Linked DNA regions of Homo sapiens: region 2 is linked to region 1. The links come from fine-mapping of genetic effects on gene expression. A gene starts in region 1. The other region holds a variant in brackets. All regions are shown on one strand. Distances are between the middles of the regions.

The links. PIP is the estimated chance that this variant, and not a neighbour inherited with it, causes the effect. A credible set is the group of variants that fine-mapping cannot tell apart.
Region 2: its variant is the best candidate, but not a certain one, in a credible set for the expression of DNAI3 in testis (GTEx, PIP 0.63).

Annotation. Positions count from the first base shown.
Region 1 is chr1:85,059,847-85,065,384 of GRCh38, forward strand. It overlaps DNAI3 (dynein axonemal intermediate chain 3), which reads left to right and starts at 2,481. Exons shown (of 23, transcript NM_145172.5): 1 at 2,481-2,640. RefSeq lists an enhancer at 2,116-2,616.
Region 2 is chr1:85,114,529-85,119,528 of GRCh38, forward strand. DNAI3 (dynein axonemal intermediate chain 3) reads left to right here. Exons shown (of 23, transcript NM_145172.5): 17 at 3,201-3,331. Among named protein-coding and RNA genes, the nearest start is that of MIR4423, 17 kb to the right of the region's middle. The variant T/A (reference allele first, on the strand shown) is at 3,112.

The sequences.
Region 1 (5,538 bases):
GCATGTCACAGTTGCCTAAGGTTTCTTTGTGTTTATTCAGTTTTCTGTCAATTTTAGTTAATAGTGGCTTTAGACATTTTTTTAAAAATTGAAACAAACACGAATCCATTGCAAAGCCAAATGCAAAAACTTCATAAATTCTTTATATGAAACAAATATGTCTCAGTTGCAGAAGTCTATTTCATGTTATAAACCTTCTTTCCATCAACCTACTACTCACTCCTGGCCCCTGTGATTTCCTGCTCCTTGGCTGTTAAGGGTCTTCAGTTAAGAAGCACTGGACTAAAATGTGGGTTGGGCTGGGGACAGAGGCAGGAAATGAGGTTAGAAAAATAACTAATTACCTTCCAGATTTATTTCCAGTGTCTTTCAGAACCCTGTTTATACAGGGTTTCATATGCCAGATTGAGCATATTTAAGCAGGGTGACGTCAGGATTCAAACTATGGAAAATTATGTGGCAACTTGGCAAATAAATTAGAGGGAAAGAGATAGAACAAGTCAAAAGACTATTGCTACCGTCTAGGTGAGAGATAAGGCATATCTGAAATAAGGCAGAGGCAGAGGATGGCTAAGAGAAAATGGATTATTTGAGAGACAATTAAGAAAGAAAAATGACAGAACTTAAATGATATGTTGACTGTGGGCAGTAGAAGAGGAGTCAAGGATGACTTTCAGATTTCGTTTTGCAACTGATGGACAATGATACTATTACCTAGGGTAGAAAATAAAGAAGGAAAAAAAGTTTCTGAAAGATAATGAGTTGACTTTGGCTCTGCTAAGTTGTGGTGCTATGGTCATTCATTCATTCACTACATTTAATCTTTATTTAGCATCTATTAAACAACATGAACTGAACTACACAGGTAGTTGGAAATGTCCAGTAGCTAGAGGAAATTCAGGTATGGAATTTAAGAGATATGTTAGGCTGAGAATGTAGAAATGGAAGTCCAGTGTGTTTAGTGGTGATGGCTGAAGCTAAGGGGAATATATGATGCCGACGCCACCAGGAGAGTGCGAAGAGTGACAAAAGAAGACTCAAGACTGAGCCCAGGGGAAAACGAATCTTCCACTTCCTGGGAGTGGACAAGCTGGAAAAAAGTTGTCAGAATGTTTAGATAATACCTCTTTTTTAGTTTTTTTCCTTCATAATTTGTATTGTAAAATTCATTTGAATTTTGTGAACACAAATTCTTCAGAAATTTGAAAGAATCTATATAATCTTTCTGCACATAACGTAAAAATCTTCATTCAGGATCCTTAAAGTCTCATATGTTATAAATGATTAGCCTCTTCTCAATTAAAGATTTTATTTAAATTGGGTGTAAAAATTAATTTAGACCAATTACAGAAGTCAATTACATTGCTTTATTAAATTCTGCCAGTTTACAAATTAGGAAGTTATTATTATTATTATTTTTTAAGACGGACCCTCGCTCTGTCGCCCAGGCTGGAGTGCAGTGGTGCGATCTTGGCTCCCAGGTTCAAGCGATTCTCCTGCCTCAGCCTTCTGAGTCGCTGGGACTTACAGGTGCACGCCACCACGCCTGGCTAATTTTTTTGTATTTTTAGTAGAGACGGGGTTTCACCGTGTTAGCCAGGATAGTCTCGATCTCCTGACCTCGTGATCTGCCTTCCTCAGCCTCCCAAAGTGCTGGGATTACAGGCATGAGCCACCGCAGCAGCCCCCTGAACTCTCATATGTTATAAATGATCAGCCTTTTCTCAATTAAAGATTTTATTTAAATTAGGTGTGAAAATTTATTTACACCAATTACAGCAGTCAATTACATTACTTTATTAAATTCTGCCACTTTACAAATTAGACAGTTATAATTATTTTTTAAGGGAAAGGAGGAGAACAGTGTTCAGAGAGTTGAGCGTCACTGTATGAATCCCACCGGACTCCTAATCACAGATAAAATGAACCTTGGGTTACTCACGGATTCAAGTTTCTTCCCCGGAGACTCATATTTACAGCTTGAGTCAAATTCTAAACAAAAGTTATTCTGGCAAGAAGGAAATGTAACCCATTAGGGTTCTGGGGCGCCCACGACAACCAGTGGGGCGCAGCTTCCTCTCCACTCCCTAGGAGGGCCCAGCTCGCTGCAGGGGGTGGGCAGGAAAGCTGCCCGAAAGGATTCTGAGCGGGCAGCCTCCTTAACATTTTCTCTCCTGGTTCCTAGGGTCCACACCCCAGAAAGATTCTTCTCTGGCTGAGATTGCGGTGGGTGTGAGGCATGGACCGAGCCTGTTAGACCTGGGGTCAGGCCGGGCCACTGTCATTAATATACTTAAGACACAAAACTCTTTCCTTGGTAGTGGAAAGCTGCTGGCCTCACCCGGTTCGCGTTGAGTGACGTCACATAGTGGCAACCAATCACAAGTCTGCTTTGAAAGATACTGTTAGGGAGCGGACACTGTATTGGTAGAGATGCTCTGTCAGTCTCGCAGAGGACTCGCCTCTTTTCTCTTAGCGACAGATGCGTCCTGGCAACAGTCGGCAGAGTTGCTGCGGTTTGTGCCCTTGCGATTTCTTTTTCTGAGAGAGGAGAGTCAAACTCCCACCTCCAGCTCTCGAAGGAGCTTTTCCTGAGGGCACTGCAAAGAGGCTCCTTTTCTTTCAGATCAGCAGTATCAGGTAAGAGAAGCTCTGAATGGGAAAGGCGGCTTGGAAAACAAGTATTTTACTCACTCTTTCAAGGGTATTTGAACACTCGCTGTGTCAGCAATGTGCTAGGCTAGTGGCAGTGAAGACTACAAAAAACACAAGTCTTTCCCTGCTTTCAAAGAGCTTCCAGCCTCGTGAGGGAAACAAAAATAGCAACGAGAGAGCAGTTAACGACACTCTAAGAACTTTAAGGGCATGTACTGTCTTGTTCCCATGTTATATATACCCAGTGACTATCATATTGCCTAGTACATAGTAGGAACTCAATAAACCATGAATGAGTCAGTTAATGAATGAATGAATGAATGAATGAATGAATGAATGCCAAAACAGCATGATTCTGATTATCCGTCTAGGGGCGGGGGTCAAACAATAAAAGATTAATGTGGGCTGAAATAGATTACTTCAGGACTGTTTAGAAAGGGCTAGAGTAGATAAACAGTGAGGAAGATGAACAGGGAACACAAACTCTTTGAAAGTAAGGACATTGTCTTATTCCCCTAGTGACTAGTTTACCCAGTACCTAATTGCTGCGCAATACTTTCTCCTTCTTCTTGTGTATGGTGAATGCTAAATGAATTCACAGCAATCTTTTAGGAAGCTCAGAGTTTGAAGCCCTCTGCCTTTGCAGAGGCCTGACATAAGTAATTACACATAGTATGACTGGAAAGTGTCAGGGAGAACAAGATTGTTTCAGCCTGAGTGAGGAAGTCAGGGAGGCTTTCGGCTTTGGGGGAAAAGTTCATAATTGCCTTGAATGATGAGAAAGATTGAAGCAAGCAGAGAGATGCCTGCATGGTGTGGACCAGGAGCAGCAGGAGGGGTGGGAGGGAAGGGGATTCTCCAGAGAGGGAGGTGGGAAAGTCCTCGACTGTTTGGGAATGAATGGAAACCGTGTGAGGCTGGAATAGAACTGGAAAGGTTGACGCAGTGAGGCACACTGTGAAAGTACTGAAGGCCATACTTATGTGAGTTCAGACTCTATTTTGTTTTGCAAAATCTGGTGTATAGACCACCAGTGCAAGACTGTCTCACAATGCTTTTAAAAATGCGGAGTCCCAGGCTCAACCCAGACCAGCAAAATCAAAGGAGGTCCAGGAAATTTGCATTTCAAATGAGCTCCATTTCTACAATCTGGAAGAGAATGCTACTGTGAATGATAGGGACCCATAAAAAGTCATTATACAGGGAAGAGACTTGATAAGAGATGCATTTTTGGAGAGCTCTGAGGTTGGCCTCTTGAGTAGTTGTTCTGGTTAGAACAGAGGCAGAGAGGCCAGTTAAGTGTCCATGATCTAGGGCAGAGGATTCAGGGAGGAGAATCTGTGGATTTTTTTAATTACATATTTATTTTCACTAACCACCAATTGAAATGTATTCAATTGGTAACAAACCACAGTAGTACTCACAGGCCTGTGACTTTGTTAGTAACTCTTTTCATATTACATTAAAGAGATTGTAAATATATTATTTATACTCATCATTACCTCACAATTAAGGTAGTTATTAGAACCACAGCTAGATTTTGTTATTTAACGTGTTAATAAAGTACAAATTATTTTATCATAATTTAAAAAATATTTTAATAACTATATTTCCATATAATCTGTCTTCTTTGTAATCCCATGTTTTTATTTGATGCATGGGCTTCACCAGGCTGCCAAAGGTTCATGGCACAAAACAGGGTTGGAGCTCCAGTTTTGGAGGACATGTTAAAGACCTGAACCAGAGGAGGCTGTGGGAGAGAAGGGCTTGGAATTCAGAAGATATTTGGAAGGGAGAAGTAATAGGATAGCATCTACTCAAATAAGTGAATATCCAATCTTGGAAAGAAGTGGAAATAGGTATGGAAGGAAGGAAACAAGAGTATAGACTAATAGACATTGTAGGAATAGTTGTCTCTAGGGGTGGATGTTGTATACTTGCCAAAATATGGCTGAAGGACCCAGGAGAATCTTGAAGTTTAATCAGGGTCTTAGTGAAGATTTACTGAGAATCAATAGTTCTTGCAGACGCATTTACCAGAGGCCCAAGATGTTAGTCTTGGGTTTTATTCTAAATCAATGTTTGTTTGTTTGTTTGTTTGTTTGTTTTAAAGATATCCCTGGAGAGGTACCTCACGTCTATAATTCCAGCATTTTGGGAGGCCGAGGCAGGAGGATTGCTTGAGGCCAGGAGTTCTAGACCAGCCTGGGCAACGAAGCCAGACCTCACCTCTTAAAAATAAAATAAAAAGCTGGGTGCAGTGACTCACGCCTGTAATCCCAGCACTTTGGGAGGCCGAGGCAGGCAGATCACCTGAGGTCAGGAGTTCAAGACCAGCCTGGCCAACATGGCAAAACCCCATCTCTACTAAAAAATAAAAAATTAGCTGGGCATGTTGGTGGACACCTGTAATCCCAGCTACTTGGGAGGCTGAGGCAGGAGAATCGCTTGAACCCGGGAGGCGGAGGTTGCAATGAGCTGAGATTACGCCATTGCACTCCAGCCTGGGTGACAGAGCAAGACTCTGTCTCAATTTAAATAAATAAATAAATGTAGAAAGATGGAAACAAGCATTATGAGCTTATAAATTATTTGGGAAGAGGAAAGAGGATGATGACCACCTAGATGAGGTCAGCTAATTGAAGAAGACCTGGGAAGATAAGACTTTCGTAAGGAAGAACCCAGTTAAAGAGAAGGTGCCAGTGCTACAAGTCCTTTCATAATCAAGATCTCTTGGCTGGGAATAAGCCACACATACACACAGGCAACAAATGAGAGCATGTAAACAGGTGTGTGCTATCAACCTAGATAGCAAGCAGAGAGGGGGACTCTCTAAAATAAAATGTTTATTTGAGAATAGGCATTAACAATGGGAAGATGCAT
Region 2 (5,000 bases), 54 kb after region 1:
GAGTGGACATCCCTGTTTTGTTCCTGATCTTTGGAGGAAGGTCACTCTATGGCCATGATCTGCCTCCTGTGTGAATGGCCAGCTTTCAAGACTTTGAGATCAACTATGGTATTTCAGATTTCCTTTGGTCACACTGCCGACTATCCGCCCATTCTGACCAGACTTGGCCCTGTTAACTAGAATATACTCATAAGGTTCTTGATCACATTTTGATTCTTGATCCTGTACTGGTTTCTCCTTTGACTGTATCACAAGTCCTCGCTATCCCACCATTTTCTCTTGAGGCCTGTTGAGACTTAGTGTCAGTGTCTGGTACTCTGTCACTATCTAATGGCCAGGGACCACCCACCCTTTGTCTGCCATTTTAGGTCCATGACAACCCATGCTCTTCTAAGTGGTCACTTTAAGAAATTCTGTATTTATTCTGATAAGGAAACCCTTGCTCTAAATGCTTTTGGAATTCCTCTGTTGGAATAGCCTTTAGAGCCTGACATATATTCTTCTAAGCAATGTGGCATAGCAGCTATGACGGTAGATTCTGGAGTTGATGGTCTGGGTTTAAATCCCAAAGCCACAATGTATTATTTGACCAAGTTAAATTACTTTACCTCTCTGTACCTTAGTTGTTTTTTTGCTTTTAAATCCATTTGAAAATAGAGTGAGGAAGATGAGGGGAGTAAATAATAAAGAGAACTACCTCATAGGGTGTTGTGAAGATGAAATGAGTTATACACGAAGCTCTCAGAATAGCACATAGTCAACACACAGCAAATGTTAACTACCATGTGTGAGACCTTGCATAAATTACTTAATCTCTCTAAGCCTCAGTTTACTCATCCTTGGAGGAGGATGAATGCATAACCACCTGGAAGTTCTTGTGAGGACTGAATGAAATGGTTCCTATAAAGCACACACTTTAGTGCCTGGCATGTAGTAAGCATTCAATAAATGTCAGATGCTGTTATTATTACTATCTCAAAGGATGGGAAATCCATGACCTATGAGGATGATTTTGAATCTAAGTATCCAAAGTTATTCCCGTCAACTCTGAATAAACATAGTTAATAACGTTTTTCCCTAGCCTCACCTTCTTTGACTCTATCATAGCCTTCCCCAACCTTTTTTGCACCAGGGACCAGTTTTGTGGAAGATAATTTCTCCACTGGGTGGCAGGGGGAGGTGGGGGCAGGGGGGCAGGCATTAGATTCCCATAAGGAGCGTGCAACCTAGATCCCTTGAATGTCCAGTTCACAATAGTGTTCACGCTTCTGTGAGAATGTAATGCTGCTGCTGTCTGACAGGACATACTGCTCAGGCAGTAATGCTCTTTCGCCCACCTGCTGCTTGTCTCCTGCTGTGCTGACCAGTTCCTACCAGGCCACGAACCAGTATCTGTGGCCCAGGGGCTGCAGACCCCTGCTCTACCACATTAAATGCTATTAACTCAGCCTATTTTCTTGGAGCGCACACTTCTCTTAGCATCTGTGATTTTCCTATCCTGCTACTTCTTCCGTTATTCCTCCTCTATCTCCTTTCCTGGCTCCATTTCACCTTGCTGCCATCTACTCATGAATGTACCTTGAACTTTAGCTTCAGCTGTGTACTTTCCTCATTGGTAACACAGTCTACCTGCATGGCTCTAACTTTTATCTCTGCTGAGAATTCTCCATCTGACTCTTGCTGTCTCCTGGGTTTAAACCCAATCTACCCTATCCAAGTCAATGTGTCCAGAACAGGATTGATAACTTGAGTCATTCCTGATTCTCTCTTCAGGCCTCCACTTCCAGTCTCTCACTCAAGTTAATCATGTTTTCCTTTACATTTATCGCACCTTTGCCTCTTCCTTTTCATTATCAGTTGTAACCCTATAGATCAGGGTCTTGTCTCCCCTTGTGAGACCAGAAGTCTCCACACTTTTAATCTTATAGCCCCTTGTTTAACATTTCTGAGTTCAGATTCTCAATGTATGTATATGTATTTACAAATTATATACATATTCTACTTCTCTAATATATTTGTGTACATGATTTAAAAAGAGAGGAACAGACATTGAAATGTGAGTGAAGAATTTGAAATAAATATTTTAATGATTTTAATTGTATACATTAAATGGGTACAAAATGCCTTTTTGCTCTTCCTACATGTATTATAAATAATATCTTTTAATGAGAATAATGTGATTGAATATGCCCAGTCATGTTTGAAATGTTGGTTTACACTTTGTAATACAGCTATTTAAAGATCTAGTTCGATGTTTGGTTCATTTTGATACTCGTTTTTGATGTCTTACTTAGTGGGAAAAGATACGTCTCAAAACATGTAGATCCAAAACAAAGAGAGTATTGGTTGACTATACCAACTAAATCATGATAATCATTTTTAAGTTTTGTCCAGAATTATGCTAAAGTTTTTTTTAAATGTAATATGTCTTTTTAGTATAGCTGAAGTTTTATTCTCCTGTTTTAGTTTTCACTTGTCTGTTTGTTGGTTGGTTTTATGGCTTTTTGTTTCCTCTTGGGTAATATGACTCAGAGGACATATTGAGGAAGTGTGGTAGAGGAGGGTTTTATGAGCATATATTTCTCTACCATCTTTCCCAGGAATTGAATATCATATTTTCAAAAATCTAGTAAGTTACCTGGAAAAATGTTTAGGACATAGCTTTAAGAGAATAGAAAAGCAGCATATAAAACTAAAATAGGATATTATCCAGTTTTTTAAAAAAAAGTGAATTTACAAGAAAAGTCACAATATTTTAATATTATCTCTGGGAGACATGATAATGGATGATTTTCGTTCTTTTACTCATGCTTTTCTTTATTCTCCAAGGCTTAAATAAATAACATTTATTAATTTTAGATTACAAAAAGACTTTTAAAACAAGGTGACATCAAATACTTTTAAAAAGAAACAGGTTGCCGATGATGTTTGTGTTTCAGCCCCCGAATTACCTATGCTCTTACACTATGTGCAGGTATAGCTAGAGCTATAATATAGCACAGTCATTGATGTTTGGTTTGGAACAAAAGAGGGTTCTTTTGCTAAATTAGAAATCTAAAAATGCTTGGACTTATGCTCACTACATTGGGAAGGGAATGGGGCAAATGCAGG[T/A]GGCAAGGGGCAGAAAATGTAAACTGTCTATATTTTAAAAGATGTTTCCCTGTAAATATGTACTTCTTCTACCCACACTCCTCTGAAAGACAAAATGTTAGCACAGAGCAAAACAGAGAAGGCAGAAGAAATGAACCCGTATCATAATCTGGAAAGTGGGATGGCCAATCTTCTCAAGCCAATAGATGACTTCTGCACAAAGTTCTTTGTGGGAACAGAGGTAAATTGGGATTATCTGCTTTTAAAATTAATACTTATTTATACTAAAATATGTTATTACAATATCTACTGTACATTTTTGCTGTGTAAAGACATAAAAGTTATACCATTTTCATATTTTAGTATGCTTGTTTGCATTAAACATTTTTAACTCTGATACCTCATAGTTTCACCTTTAAAATGTTCCTGAACGTATGTGGACAAATCTGTAAAATTGCATACTTTTTAACTAATAATATATTGTTCAATCTACAAATATTCATCAAATACCTTTATCATTTGGAAGAAACCATACTAAGTGTTAGAGATTTACTAAGAAACTATAGTGTTTTGTTGGGCTAACACAATCTAGTAGAAGAGACAGAAAAAACTCACTCATTTCAAAAGATAAATAACAATTGGATATAATAATGATAATGGCTGCCATTTTCTAAGGACATACTGTAATAATAACCAAAGCGAGTTCACATTTACTGGACATTTTCTATGTATCAGTGTCTGTGCCAAGTTATTTTCCAAATTATATCCCATTTAATCCCAGTAATCCTGTAAGGTTGGTATTATTATTGCCATTTTATAAATGAAGAAATGAGGCTCAGAACTTTATCTACAGTCATACAGAGGCAGAGATGCTCTTTTCACTCATGACTCTCATTCCCTGAAATACAGAGTATTTTTCCCAGGCCAAGTCACCATGAGAAGAGGCCATAGCTCAGTCTCACCAGAATGCAATCTTCATCCACACTTTGGTATGAAGAGGAAAGCAATCAATTCCACAAGCTCTGGAGAACATGACTGTGTCTCAGGCACAGCACTGGGTGCTGGGATCAGAAGTGAATAGCATGGTCCCTCTCTCCTCAAGGCACTTTCTGCCTAGTCGAGGAGCAGACACATGATAAACACCAACACCAGTCCAGAGGCCATTCCGATAGGAAGAAGGAGGTTGGGGAAGGTGACCCACAGGCTGCTTGGATGTTGGAGGTTGAGAAGGAATCTCAAAGGTCAGGTTGAGAGTAGAATTCCAAGCAGAAGTAACAGCCTGAACAATATTTGGAGTTATGAAAGCCCAGTATTTGTCTGGAGTTAGTGAAATAGTTTGGTGTAAGAGGGAAAGGTATGTCTAGAATGCCTGGTTGGAATCCAATACTGAAGAGCCTTTCCTGCTGTGTTAGGTAATTTGAGTTTCATTTAGTAAGCAATGCAACACTACCAAATAAATATGTGCTTTATAACTTGGGTTTCACAGCAAAGTTTAAAAAATTTTTTTAATTGTGGTAAAATATATGTAACATAAAATTAATCATCTTAGCCATTTTTAAATGTACAATTCAGTGGTATTAAGAAACTCCTTTCCCAAAGGAGTTCAATAATCTGTTGGAAAAGTACATTCATATTGTACAACCATCACCACCATCCATGTCCAGAACTTTTCCTCATCCCAAACTGGGCGTCTGTACGCACTAAACACTAACTCCCTCTTCCTTTCTTTCCCTACCCACTTGTAACCACCATCTACTTTCTGTATCTACGAATGTGACTATTCTAGATACCTCACGTAAGTGGAATTATACAATATTTGTCCTTTTGTGCACCAAAGTTTATAAAGCAGGGGAATGACACCATCAGACCAGATTTAGAAAAATCAGTGACTGCAAGATCTTAAAGCAGAA